Homo sapiens: one gene and its partners. The protein of the gene in region 2 interacts with the protein of the main gene of each other region in a pairwise test. Each region holds a gene or a part of one and is shown on either strand. Other genes may lie near its edges.

Region 1 (3,027 bases), on a different chromosome or scaffold from region 2:
TATAGTGCAACTATGCTGGTGATGAATTCTTTCAGTATTTCTGTTGCTTAAAAAGTTTAATCTTCACTTTTGAAAGATATTTTCACTAGGTAATCAAATTCTAGGTTAACAGTTTTGGGGGCGGGGGCAGTTGTTTTTGGTACTTTTTAAGACGTTGCCCTGCTGTATTCTTACATGCACCATTTCTAATGAAAAATTTAATTAATGTCATACTCACCTTTATTCTCTGTACCTAATACTTCTTTTTTTCTTTGCTTTTAAGAATTTTTCTTTTTTTAAATTTTTTATTTATTTATTTTTGGAGACAGGGTTTCCCTCTGTCACCCATGCTAGAGTGCAGTGGCACACTCACAACTCACTGCAGCGTCAACCTCCCAGGCTCAAGCAATCCCTCCACCTCAGCCTCCTGAGTAGCTGGGACTTACAGACATGTGCCACCATGCCAAGCTAATTTTTGTTTGTTTTTGTAGAGACCAGATTTCTCCATGTTGCCCAGGCTGGTCTCAAACTCCTAAGCTCAGGCGATCCCCCTGCCTCGGCCTCCCTAAGTGCTGGGCCAGGCGTGAGCCACCGTGCTGGACAATAATTTTTGTTTTTTTCTACTGCTTTTGCCTAATCTGATGATGATATGCCTTGGTTTCATTTTCTTCATATTTCTTGTAATTAAGATTTGTTGAGCTTTTTTATTTAGCAGTTTATACTTTTTATCAAACTTGGAAAAATTTTGGCCATGATTTCTTCAAATATTTCTTTCTATCCCAATTTTTCCCCTCCTTCAGGAATTCTAATTATGTGTATATTAGGCTGTCTGAAATTGTGCAACATGTTACTGATGCTTTATTTTTTTTCTATCTCCTTTTCTCTCTGTAGTCCATACTGGATAGTTCCTGTTGCTGTAACTTTACATTCACGAAATCTTTTCTTCTTCAAAAAATACACTGCCATTCTCTCCAGTGTATTTTTTTACCTCACACATCAGTTATCTGTAGATATTCTATTAGAGTCTTTTTTATATATTTTATGTACTTAACTTTTTGAATATATAGAATACAATTTTAATAACTTTCTTAATTGTCTGCTAATTCTAACATTTGTGTCAGTTCCGGCTTGGTTTCCATTGATTGATTTATCTCTTATTATGACTAATGTTTTCCTGCTTATTTGCATGCCTGGTAAATTTTGCATGCCATGAATTTTGGGTTTTAATTTGCCAGATGCTAGATATTTTTGTATCATGTTTTCTTGAGCATTGTTCTGGAGTACAGTTAGTTAGAAACTGTTCGACCCTTTCAGATTTTACTTTGTTTGACAAGACTGTTTTGCATACTTAGTGTCCATGAATCTTGACATTTTCAAGTCTGGCTAGTGGGAATAGTGGCTATACCCTGTGAGCACAGGGCACTCCTAATCTCTGGTTGTTCTTTCCTCAGCCTTGAGTAGTTTCCTCATGTGCATGTGCTGATCTTACTCCATGGAATACTCAAAGGGGAGCCTCTGAAGATCTTGAGTTTTTTCTGTGCAGCTCTCACCTGTCTAGTACTTTGTCCTGTGAACTGTAGCTACTTTGGTCTCCCTGGATGTTTTGCACTACCTCCTCAGCTCAGTCTGCTAAGCTCTGCCTGGGTTTCCCTTCCTTGCCCTGAGGCCGAGAAACTCTCAGGCAGTTAGCTGGAGCAGTCTTAGGTCTCACCTCTTTGCTTCCCATCTGTCCACAATAGCTGCTGTCCTTGCCAAATATCCATTATCTTAAGAGCTATTTTTTTCTGTCTTTTAGCCTTGTGTTGGTTCTTGGAGGTAGGGGTCAATCCAGTCTCTGTTACTTCATCTTGGCTGGAAATAAAAGTCTTCTTTACTAATTTTAATATTAAATAATAGCTTTTCAAAATTATTTTATAGTACCTTTATAAGCTATGTCAGTGTTATTTTCCCTATTCTCAAATGAAAAAGGAATAAAAGCATACCCAGCAAATTTAAGCATAACCATAATAAACACCAAGAGGAGTTGTCTCTTGAAAATTCCAAGACCAGAGTCCTCTCTAAATCCCCAACACCGAGCCTGAGAACCTGCTGCAGTACTCTTTTCCTGTCACACCTTATCAAATGCAATAGCCATCCAATAAAGTAACCCAGTTAAAAACTTAATTTAAATTTGTTTGATAGGTAAAAATTAAACTTAGCAGCACCACATTGAATGAACAAAAGCTGTAGAGTCATTGCAAGTGTCATGCTATTCATAGAGATAAGTGCTTCCCATCCATAATATTCTGCAGTCTTTGTGTATGCCTGGCCTTAGTAAAAGGAGGGATGCCCTTAGCACCCTAAATATTGCTTCTACCCCCATCTTCTTCCTGTGTTCCTTAAACCTCTATCACCAACTTAAAAATGTTCTCCAGGCATTGTAAATGAAGAAACAGCTTAGACCTAGTTATAAGCTTTTATCCAACTACATATCTGTCTGATTTAATAACTTGGTGTTTATGTTTTTAGGAACATAGCTACAGTGTAATGGACAGTCCAAAGAAACTTAAGCATAAATTAGATCATGTGATCGGCGAGCTAGAGGATACAAAGGAAAGTCTACGGAATGTTTTAGACCGAGAAAAACGTTTTCAGAAATCATTGAGGAAGACAATCAGGGAATTAAAGGATGAATGTCTGATCAGCCAAGAAACAGCAAATAGACTGGACACTTTCTGTTGGGACTGTTGTCAGGAGAGCATAGAACAGGACTATATTTCATGAAATAATTTCATGTTACGTTCCACCTAAAATTGTCATTGGTACAAATTTTTATAAAATCTCATTTACCATCACTAAATAATATCCATCATTTAAAGTGCTGCTTTGGATTCTCTGGAGCATTATGCATTATAGTTGTTATCCAAAGACTTTTTTGAAAATATGCAGAAATTTGTGGTAATTATGTATTTGTGTCTTGTGACAATTATGTTTTATAGACCTACACTAGTGCCAGGTCACTATTGTAAGATGTTAAAATCTCAAGAAAATTTCACAGAGCTAAAGAAA
Region 2 (3,500 bases):
GTGATCTAGACTCTTACCATTTAGCACAGGAAGGAACTTTGGCTACACATTAGAATTATCTGGAGACTGTTAAAAATGTAGTTTTCGGCTGGGCGCGGTGGCTCACACCTGTAATCCCAGCAGTTTGGGAGGCCAAGGTGGACGGATCACTTGAGGCCAGGAGTTCAAGACCAGCTTGGCCAACATGGCGAAACACCATCTCTAATAATAATACAAATATTAGGCCGGGCGCAGTGGCTCATGCCTGTAATTCCAGCACTTTGAGAGGCTGAGGTAGGTGGATCACTTGAGGCCAGGAGTTTGAGGCCAGTCTGGCCAACATGGCAAAACTCCGTCTCTACTAAAAAAAATACAAAGATTAACTGAGCCTGGTGGCACTCACCTGTAGTCCCAGCTACTCGGGAGGTTGAGGCAGGAGAATTGCTTGAACCCGGGAGGTGGAGGCTGCAGCGAGCTGAGATTGCTTCACTGTACTCCAGCTTGGGTGACAGAGAGAGACCCTGTCTCAATAAATAAATAATGTAGTTTTCTGATTTAGTAAATCTAGAGAGGGGTTCAGGAGTTAGTGTTCTTGATGAACTCCTAGGTGAACATGACTGGCATTTGAAAAATACGGATCTACTCCCACCCCTTTATTTTTCAGGGAAGAAATAAACACAGAAGAGCAAACTGAGTAGCTCAGAGTGGCATGGTCAGTGGCAGAACTGGGTCTCACACCTGGGTCCTTTTTAGTACACATCTACATGTCACCTTAACCCATTCCCCTAAAGAATGGAGGCTAGGGTTGGGCACGGTGGCTCATGCCTATAATCCCAGAACTTTGGGAGGCCGAGGTGGGTGGATCACCTGAGGTCAGGAGTTCAAGACCAGCCTGGTCAACATGGTAAAACCCCGTCTCTACTAAAGTACAAAAATTAGCTGGGTGTGATGGCGTGTGCCTGTAATCCCAGCTACTCGGGAGGCTGAGGCAGGAGAATTGCTTGAACCTGGGAGGCAGAGGTTGCAGTGAGCTGAGGTGACGCCATTGCATTCCAGCCTGGGCAAAAAGAATGAAACTCCATATCAAAAAAAAAAAAAAAAAAAATAGAGTTTTTATGCTAATAAACACGAAAGCAAAGTAAAAGGAAAATGACACTGATGAATTGGAACAAACTCCTAGTTTCTGGGTATTTATTTAAAATTATGTATCATTTGATTGGCTTCGCTCATTTATTTAACATGTATATATTGAGTGTGTTTTATATGCCAGGCTAAAAACAGATTAAAATCCCTGACCTCACAGAGCTGACGTTCTCAGTTTCGTTGCCAGCAGGTGATCTTGCATGAAAGCTGCTCTTGCATGAAAGCCCAAGCCCCTCAGCTCTAGGGTTAGGAGCACAGGCTCTGGAGTTAGGCATACTGGGTTTAAGTCCCAGGCCTCTCATTGGTCAGCTGTGGGATCCAGATAGGTTATTTACCCTCTGTCTTCAGTGTCTCCCCCTGGTCAGTGGGGTCGTGAGGCTTAAATGAGGTAATGCACAGGAAGCATCTTCCTGGTGTCTGCTACTGGTACTCAGGAAGTGTTGGCAGTTACTGTTAGCAGTGATACCTAACCCCTGTTATAGATGGTCCGTGTGCACGAGAAATCATCCCTGTTGCTGAACAGCTTAGCTGATTTTGAGTCGTGGTCTTACTCCCCATCCTAGGGAAACTTGGAGGGGAAGGACCTGTAGCCATGTCTCCCTTACACATCTCATGGCAGCTCAAGATGGGGAATCCTGTTGCAAGAAGTCTCCCCACACCCTCTGGCAGGTTTTGCTTTGCCTCGCTGCTGTCCTGTTGTAGGGCATGGGTAGGCCTCGCTGAGTGAGCAGAGACACCAGTGAGTAGTAGTGAGTAAAATTCGAGAACACTAAATCCTGAACCCCTTTCTAGATTTACTAAATCAGAAAACTACATTGTTAACGCAGTCTCTGGATAATTCTAATGTGTAGCCAGACTACATATTGCCAAAGTCCCTTCCCATGCTAAATGGATAAAAGTCTATGACATCACAAATATATCTGCCACATTAGCCATTTAAAATCATTCCTATAATAATTTCAGGTTGGGCGTGGTGGCTCACACCTGTAATCCCAGCACTTTGGGATGCAGAGGCAGGCAGATCCCATGAGGTCAGGAGTTCGAGACCAGCCTCATCAACATGGTGAAACCCTGTCTCTATTAAAAATACAAAAATTAGCGTGGTGGTGGGCGCTTGTAGTCCCAGCTACTTGGGTGCCTGAGGCAGGAGAATTGCTTGAACCTGGGAGGCAGAGGTCACAGTGAGCCGAGATCATACCACTGTACTCCATCCTGGGCGATACAATGAGACTTCATCTCAAAAAAAAAAATCATTCCTATAATAATTTCTTTTTTTAAATTTTATTTATGTATTTTTTTTTTGAGATGGAGTCTCACTCTGTCGCCTAGGCTGGAGTGCAGTGGTGTGATCTCGGCTCACTGCAAACTCTGACCCCCAAGGTTTAAGCAATTCCTCTGCCTCAGCCTCCCGAGTAGCTGGAATTACAGGCATGTGGCACACGCCTGGCTAATTTTTTTATTTTTAGTAGAGATGGGATTTTGCCATGTTGGCCAGGCTGATCTCGAACTCCTGACCTCAAGTGATCCGCCCGCCTCGGCCTCCCAAATTGCTGGGAGTACAGGCGTGAGCCACTGTGCCTGTCCTCCTGTAATAATTTCAAAACAAAAAGTTAAAAGAAAACATGCCTATAGTCCTTCTATCTTAGACCAAATAACATGGAGCAGATGGTGGCATCTGTAGGTGACATCCCCACTCCTAGCACAATCAGTCTTTTCCTGGCAGCTGGGCAGACACTGAACCAACTCAGAGAGTGAGGCCGCTGCTCAAGCCTGCATTCCTTGGCTCCTCATCTGTGCCATGAAGGCAATTTTGGGCCAACCCTTTTCCTTTGCAGTCCCTCAGCTGCCTAGTGTATAGGAATGTGGACCTGAACTTACTAGAGAGTTGTGAATAGTCATTATGTATGCCTTTTCACAAGTTGTACCTTCTTTCTGGAAAGCTGTCCCCATCAGGCAAGATTCTGCAATGGGGTCCTTTCCTCTGTGAAACTCTCTTTGGCCATTGGGCTCCTGTCCTCTTCCTTTCTTGGTTGGCTTTAATTTTTTATTTTTATTTATTTATTTGTTTTTGAGACAGATTCTTGCTCTGTTGCCCAGGCTGGAGTGCAGTGGCATGATCTTAGCTCAGTGCAACCTCTGTCTCCTGGGTTCAAGTGATTCTCGTGCCTCAGCCTCCTGAGTAGCTGGGGCTACAGGTGCATGCCACCATGCCCGGCTCGTTGTTGTATTTTTAGTAGAGACGGGGTCTCACTATGTTGACCAGGCTGGTCTTGAACTCCTGACCTCATGTGATCCACCTGCCTCGGCCTCCCAAAGTGCTGGGATTACAGGCATGAGCTACCATGCCCAGCCTTTGGTTGTCTTTTAAAAGGGTTGAT
Region 3 (3,500 bases), on a different chromosome or scaffold from region 2:
TTACCTACACAACAGATTCAATTTTTTTTCGTTGTTAGATGGAGTTTCACCCTGTCATCCAGGCTGCAGTGTGCAGTGGCATGATCTCGGCTCACTGCACCCTCTCCCTCCCGGGTTCAAGCAATTCTCTGCCTCATCCTCCCGAGTGGCTGGGATTACAGGTGTCTGCCACCACGCCTGTCTAATTTGTGTATTTTTAGTAGAGATGGGGTTTCACCATCTTGGCCAGGCTGCTCTTCATTTCCTGACCTCATGATCCACTCGCCTCGGCCTCCCAAAGTGCTGGGATTACAGGCGTGAGCTACCACGCCCGGCCCCACTTGTGTTTTTATTATTTATTATTATTTTTGAGATGGAGTTTCACTCTTGTTGCCTAGGCTGGACTGCAATCACGCTATCTCGGCTCACTGCAACCTCCACCTCCCGGGTTCAAGTGATTCTGCTGCCTCAGCCTCCCGAGTAGCTGGGATTACAGGTATGTGCCACCATGCCCGGCTAATTTTGTATTTTTAGTAGAGATGAAGTTTCTACATGTTAGTCAGGCTGGTCTTGAATTCCCGACCTCAGGTGATCCGCCCGCCTCGGCCTCCCAAAGTGCTGGGATTACAGGCATGAGCCACAGTGCCCGGCCAGTTGTGTTTTTTAAAAAGGGTGAGAGATACATACATATAATATACACACGTGTGTATACTTCTTTAACATATGCATTGAGTACCTTTGGAAACATACATGAAACTGGTAGCGCTGGCTATCTCCCAGAATGGGCCTGGGTGTCTGGGAGCCAGGGAGATTTTTACTGAGTATCTTTCCCTTTGCATTTTCTAGCATGTAATTAAATACTCTATATTTAAAGAAAAAAATTCAAACCACCATCAGTTACCTTCTCTGGGTCAATCTTGTCATAGAGTTTCAATACGTAAAGAACACGGTCCTGGATGCCCTCTAACGTCAAAGGAGGCATGTCGCTATACTGGCGGCACAACTGTGTAACTCTACCAGGAACCTAGAGCGACGGCAGGAAGGAAACACTGTCATTGAATGGAAAATACCTCTAAATCAATGCACAAGCCTATAGGTAACTTTCACAGAACTTTCGGGGCTTTAGAGAACCCACAGCATCTGATTCTCATTGTGGCCACCAGGACACACTAAGTTGCAGGACTGGGTAATCGCAGAAGCCCCAACAGTTCAGCAGCATCTCAGGCCTCCTTCCTGGGAGTCAGGACCGGCCCCTCTGCCTCCTGGCTTCAACCCTCAGGCTCTGGACATTCATACTGCTCTGCGACACTAACTGCCACTAAAATTGTCTAGCGTCTGCAGAATGCCTGTGTCTTCTCATGGCATCTTCAGCATCCCGAGGCCTCTACAGGGTGCTGCCACCTTTAATAGGCTGACCCAAGTCAAAATAACCCAAAAGGAAAGAGCTGTCATGGTAAACCCAAAGGCAATTCAAATTGAGGACCATACACCAGAAAGGTCTAGTTTGGTTCCAGCAGTTATCTCCCTGATCTCAGCCAGGACAAAGGAAGCTGGCCTCCCACCCAAAGAGGGGATGAGGGAGCTTACAGTCACTACATTCCAATCTGTTTCCCTTCCAGCGAGGCTTGCCTCATGGCCACCAGCCAAACCATGAGCCCTTCTGGCCTGTGCCATGTTAGAGCAATACCTCACGTATCTCTGGTATTAGTCGGCTCAATGTTTAGGTATTAGGGTATTGACCAGATTTCATTCAACAAATGTGGAATGAGCTGCAATTACAGGTCAGGGGGTTTAATGCTGTGGAAGGTACGACGCAGAATCAGAGAAAACAAAACAGGGTATCTGGCAGTTTTGCTCACTACTGAAATCCCTAATCTGGCTAGTCGTGGTGGCTCACGCCTATAATCACAACACTTTGGGAGGCCACGGTGAGCAGATCACCTGAGGTCAGGAGTTCGAGACCAGCCTGGCCAACATGGTGAAACCCCGTCTCTACTAAAAATACAAAAATTAGCCAGGCGTGGTGGTGGGCGCCTGTAATCCCAGCTACTCAGGAGACTGAGGAAGGAGAATCGCTTGAATGTGGGAGGAGAGGTTGCAGTGAGCCGAGCCTGCGCCATTGCATTCCAGCCTGGGCGACAAAGCAAGACTCCGTCTCAAAAAAAAGAAAAAGAAAGAAATCCCTAATCTAAATTGGTTTGTTTACCTCCTGAAGTTGATTTTAAGTCCGAGGCTTGGCGTTCTTCAGGCATTTCCCTATAGAAAGTGGGGCTGCTTGTTAGGGCTCAGGTCCCTGAAACTCACAAAGGTCCATGAAAAATCATAATAAATACTGCCCAGAGAACCAAACCAGTATAACCTCTGTAGAAGAAACATTCATCTTGCATAAAGAACAGGTATTGGGCCGATGTGTGTCTCACACCTGTAATCCCAGCACTTTGGGAGGCCGAGGTGAGCCAATCACTTGAGGCCAGGAGTTCGAGACCAGCCTGGCCAACATGGTGAAGCCTCGTCTCTACTAAAAATACAAAAATTAGCTGGGCGTGGTGGTGTGTGCCTGTAATCCCAGCTATTCAGGTAGCTGAGGCATGAGAATTGCTTGAACCCAGACAGAGGTTGCAGTGAGCCGAGACTGTGCCACTGCACTCCACCTTGGGCCACAGAGCGAGACTCTGTCTCAAAAAAGAAAAGAAAAAGAAGTCAGTTATTAAAATCAGGTTTAGGCTGGGCGCAGTGGCTCACACCTGTAATTGCCACACTTTGGGAAGCCGAAGCAGGCGGATCACGAGGTCAGGAGTTCGACACTAGCCTGACCAACATGGAGAAACCCCGTCTCTACCAAAAATATAAGTTAGCTGGGCGTGGTAACATGTGCCTGTAATCCCATCTACTCAGGAGGCTGAAGCAGAAGAATCGCTTGAACTTGGGAGTCGGAGGTTGCAGTGAGCCAAGATCATGCCATTTACACTCCAGCATGGGTGACAGAGTGAGATTCCGTCTCAAGAAAAAAAAAAAAAAAATCAGGTTTAATCAGCAAACTAAAGAGATGAGTTGGAGAGTATGATAGATATTCTAACGAGCCTTTCTGAGTACTTTCAAGAGTTTTAGAGCATGTTTCTTTGTCTAAATGTCTAGTCTCCTTTCGTATTATACATGGGTTAAGGAGACCTTTTATACAGGCACATGACCGGCCTACTTAACAATGACTCAAATAGGTTTCCAAGTCACAAATAAAATGGAGAAGAAAGGAATAAAGAGAAAGGGGGAGAAGAAATGAGGTAATATGGCAATGGCAGAAAAGAAATTTCAGTTGGAGGGATCTAACAGAGGCTGTGTGCTTATCAAGAAATGGTACGAGGCCAGGTGTGGTGGCTCACGCCTGTAATCCCAGCACTTTGGGAGGCCAAGGTGGGCGGATCTCTTGAGGTCAGGAGTTTAAGACCAGCCTGCCCAACACAGTGAAACCTCCATCTCTACTGAAAGTCCAAAAATTAGCCGGGCATCGTGGCGTGTGCCTATAA
Region 4 (2,941 bases), on a different chromosome or scaffold from region 2:
CAAGCATTTTTTGATGCAGATGAATTGAATGAATGACTGGTCAGAGGATGAGACAAAAAGAGATCCCTGCTTTCAGGGCAGCCATTAAATGCAGTCCCTGCTGCCATATCATGCAGCTGTTGCTCACTGAGGTGTGGGAAACTTATTTGGGAAAACTTTTTTGTGAACAAAAATGTTATCTGCAAATATAAGAGATCATTCCTCTCATTGTTAAATAAACTCAAGTGCATGTCTTGCTAGTGCTGACTTCCAATGTCATTTCTACTATGTTGAGAGTTAAATGTAAGTGTCCTTGGGCAGAAAGAGAGGACCTCAGCTTGGATCAGAATCTGTCCTTTATTAGCTACATAACATCACATATTAATTTTTTTTCAGGTGAAAAATGAAGGTAATAATGCATGACCACCTGTTTTGAGAATCAAATTGGATAATAACTATGGTATGTGATATGTGTGTAAATCCCATATCAGGAGTGCTTTCAAATAAAACAAAACACTATATGAGATGAGGATGGTTCAGAATTTATTCAGAAACATATAGGTAAGGATTTCTGCTACCAGGGACACAACACAAATTTATCATGAAAAGAAGAAAGAAGGATACAAGAACGATGAGGAGGATATTGAAAACAAAAAAAAGATTGCAAAGATCATCGATCAGTTGCAGAAACCTAAATTCCTTAGAAGCAGGGAATGAAGCTCTTGACTTTAGAGTCAAAGCTGAGACCATGACTCAAACTTGAGAACAGATGAAGCTGGCACATGATCCACAAGGTGTAAGGAAAAAGAGAATCAGGATGAAGTATTCTGCCCTCCCTCAAGCAGATTTCCAAGATTTTAAACATGTAGAGAATTCATAAAAATTTGGGTGAGAGCATGGTGGCTGTCAGCAGCAAATTAAATTAGTCCCCCAAAAGATGAGTCAGTTGAGCAGAAATTTGTTGTGTGAGGATGGTGGTTCTCTTGGAACGTGATCAGCAGCAAGAAGGCTGGCAGCAGCTGGACACACAGGTGGGCTGGAAGCAAGTGGTCCTGCAGCAGGTGGTCTCACAGCAGGCTGGGCGGCAGCAGGGCTGGCAGCAGTTGGAGCCACAGCTCTGGTTTAGGCAACCAGGCAGGCAGACAGTCGTGGGGTGGTAGCAGGTTCTTCTGCAGTACACAGGTGCACAGGAGCTGCTCTGACCACAGCTGGACCCACAGCTGGTTTGGCCACAGCAGGTGGGCTGACAGCAGGGTGTGCTGCAGCAGGAAGGCTGGCAGCAGCTGGTCACACAGATGGGCTGGCAGCAGGTGTTTTGACAGCAAGTTGGGCGGCAGCAAGGCTGGCAGCAGCTGGACACACAGCAGGAGGGCTGGCAGCAGGGTGTGCTGCTGCAGGTGGTCACAGTGGTGGGCTTCCAGCAGGTGGTCCTGCAGCACGTAGGCTGACAGCAAGGGGAACAACAGTGGGTCATGGTGTCAGGGGTAGAGGGTGGAGTTCTGTTCAGAGGTGAGTTTCCCAGAATCTGATGACCCCTTGCATTCTGGACCTTTTATACACCTGGCCTCCAAAGTTTCCACCAATCAGCAGGACTTTTCCTTGTTGCTGTTTATCTTGTTTTCCACAGTCCGTTTGTGATTCTCAAAGGGTAGTTGTTTCCTTAAGGTTAAACAGATTAAGGTTTAATCTGTTTCTTAATTGTGAATTACTCATAGACACTTTGTTTGAGATAAAAGGAAGCCCGTCTCATCATCAGCATCATTCCTATTCTGACCATCATCTAGTCATGTGATAGTTCCTGTTGATCTGGGAGGCTCAGGAAGCTCTCTGGCCAGCCTCATGTTTGGCTGTATATAGACTGGGAAGTGTCTGTGGGGAGAAGCATGATGCTGATATATTTACAGTGACAAAATGAATCCATGCCTGGGCCCAAGGCTAGTCACCCACCAAATTCTGACTCAAGACTAACAGGCATCTCTCTGTACCACCCTCACCACCTGTGCCTTTCCGTTATTTGAACGTCACTTGGGAAGAGGGTGTCTGTCACAGTGTGTTCCATGTGGCAGAGCAGATCGAGAGCAGGGGGATGCAGAGAAATTCACTGGGATTTAGACAACATCAAGCAAACTATGCCCTGAGTGACCATTCATTCTGACTTGTCTGTGAGTGTGGCGATTCCAGGACGAGAATGTAGGACTCTCTATGACATAACTGCTTGAGATTCAGGCCAACCAGCATGTGCTCTGGCTCTAGCTGCAACCCAGTTACCAGCACAGTAAGCATCATGTCTTCTCTCTCTATTTCTTTTTAATGAAGGAATTAGATGAGTTGAGATGATGCCTGATTCATCATGGAGTTCTAACATGTTTAAAACATTTTCTAGGTATACCATTCATTTGAGAAAATGCAAACTATTAATTTTCAACTTGATATAGTATTATATTGTAAATACATTTATGTCCCATTACATCTATGTTAGGAAATAGAAATTAATTCCATTCTCTCCCAATTATATGCTCTTACTCTTTCCCAAAGACAGCTAATCACTCTATCAGTTGTAATCCTGTAGGTAACTTTTGGCTTTTTAAAATTTTCATGTGAATAAAAAGTATAGTATTTGCTTCTCTATTTCTTTGGCATAAACAAAAGTAATCTTTATCGCCTAGTCATTTTGGACTCTTCATATAAGCAAAGCAGCAGACAGAGAAAGTAGTTACTATTTGGTGAGGGATAATTACCCTCAAGCCATATAGTGTAGCAGAATATATCTATAGCTCAGGAGATTTACTGAGTATATTAATTTACTAGCACTGCCCTGATGAATTACTGAAAAAAAGTGGCTTAAATTTATTTATCAAAGTTCTGAAGGCCTCTTTTCTGAAATTAAGGTGTTGGCAATGTTGTTTTCATCTGAAGACTGCGAGGGAAGTATCTGTTCCAGGTCTCCCTCCCTGACGTGTCG

What was found. Proteins that work in one complex are often made in the same cells at the same time.
Region 1: the proteins of NTAQ1 (region 2) and THAP6 interact in binary tests that used the Homo sapiens proteins (3 or more experiments, as listed by UniProt).
Region 3: the proteins of NTAQ1 (region 2) and NDUFAB1 interact in binary tests that used the Homo sapiens proteins (3 or more experiments, as listed by UniProt).
Region 4: the proteins of NTAQ1 (region 2) and KRTAP9-8 interact in binary tests that used the Homo sapiens proteins (3 or more experiments, as listed by UniProt).

Annotation. Positions count from the first base shown.
Region 1 is NC_000004.12:75,524,473-75,527,499, forward strand, and holds part of THAP6 (THAP domain-containing protein 6), read left to right. Parts: intron 1-2,487; coding exon 2,488-2,742; 3' UTR 2,743-2,957; coding exon of another isoform or gene 2,958-2,987; 3' UTR 2,988-3,027.
Region 2 is NC_000008.11:123,430,274-123,433,773, forward strand, and holds part of NTAQ1 (protein N-terminal glutamine amidohydrolase), read left to right. Parts: intron 1-3,500. UniProt on the Homo sapiens protein: Mediates the side-chain deamidation of N-terminal glutamine residues to glutamate, an important step in N-end rule pathway of protein degradation.
Region 3 is NC_000016.10:23,586,317-23,589,816, forward strand, and holds part of NDUFAB1 (acyl carrier protein, mitochondrial precursor), read right to left. Parts: intron 1,004-3,500; coding exon 881-1,003; intron 1-880. UniProt on the Homo sapiens protein: Carrier of the growing fatty acid chain in fatty acid biosynthesis.
Region 4 is NC_000017.11:41,236,564-41,239,504, reverse strand, and holds KRTAP9-8 (keratin-associated protein 9-8), read right to left. Parts: upstream 1,507-2,941; 5' UTR 1,454-1,506; coding exon 974-1,453; 3' UTR 501-973; downstream 1-500. UniProt on the Homo sapiens protein: In the hair cortex, hair keratin intermediate filaments are embedded in an interfilamentous matrix, consisting of hair keratin-associated proteins (KRTAP), which are essential for the formation of a rigid and resistant hair shaft through their extensive disulfide bond cross-linking with abundant cysteine residues of hair keratins.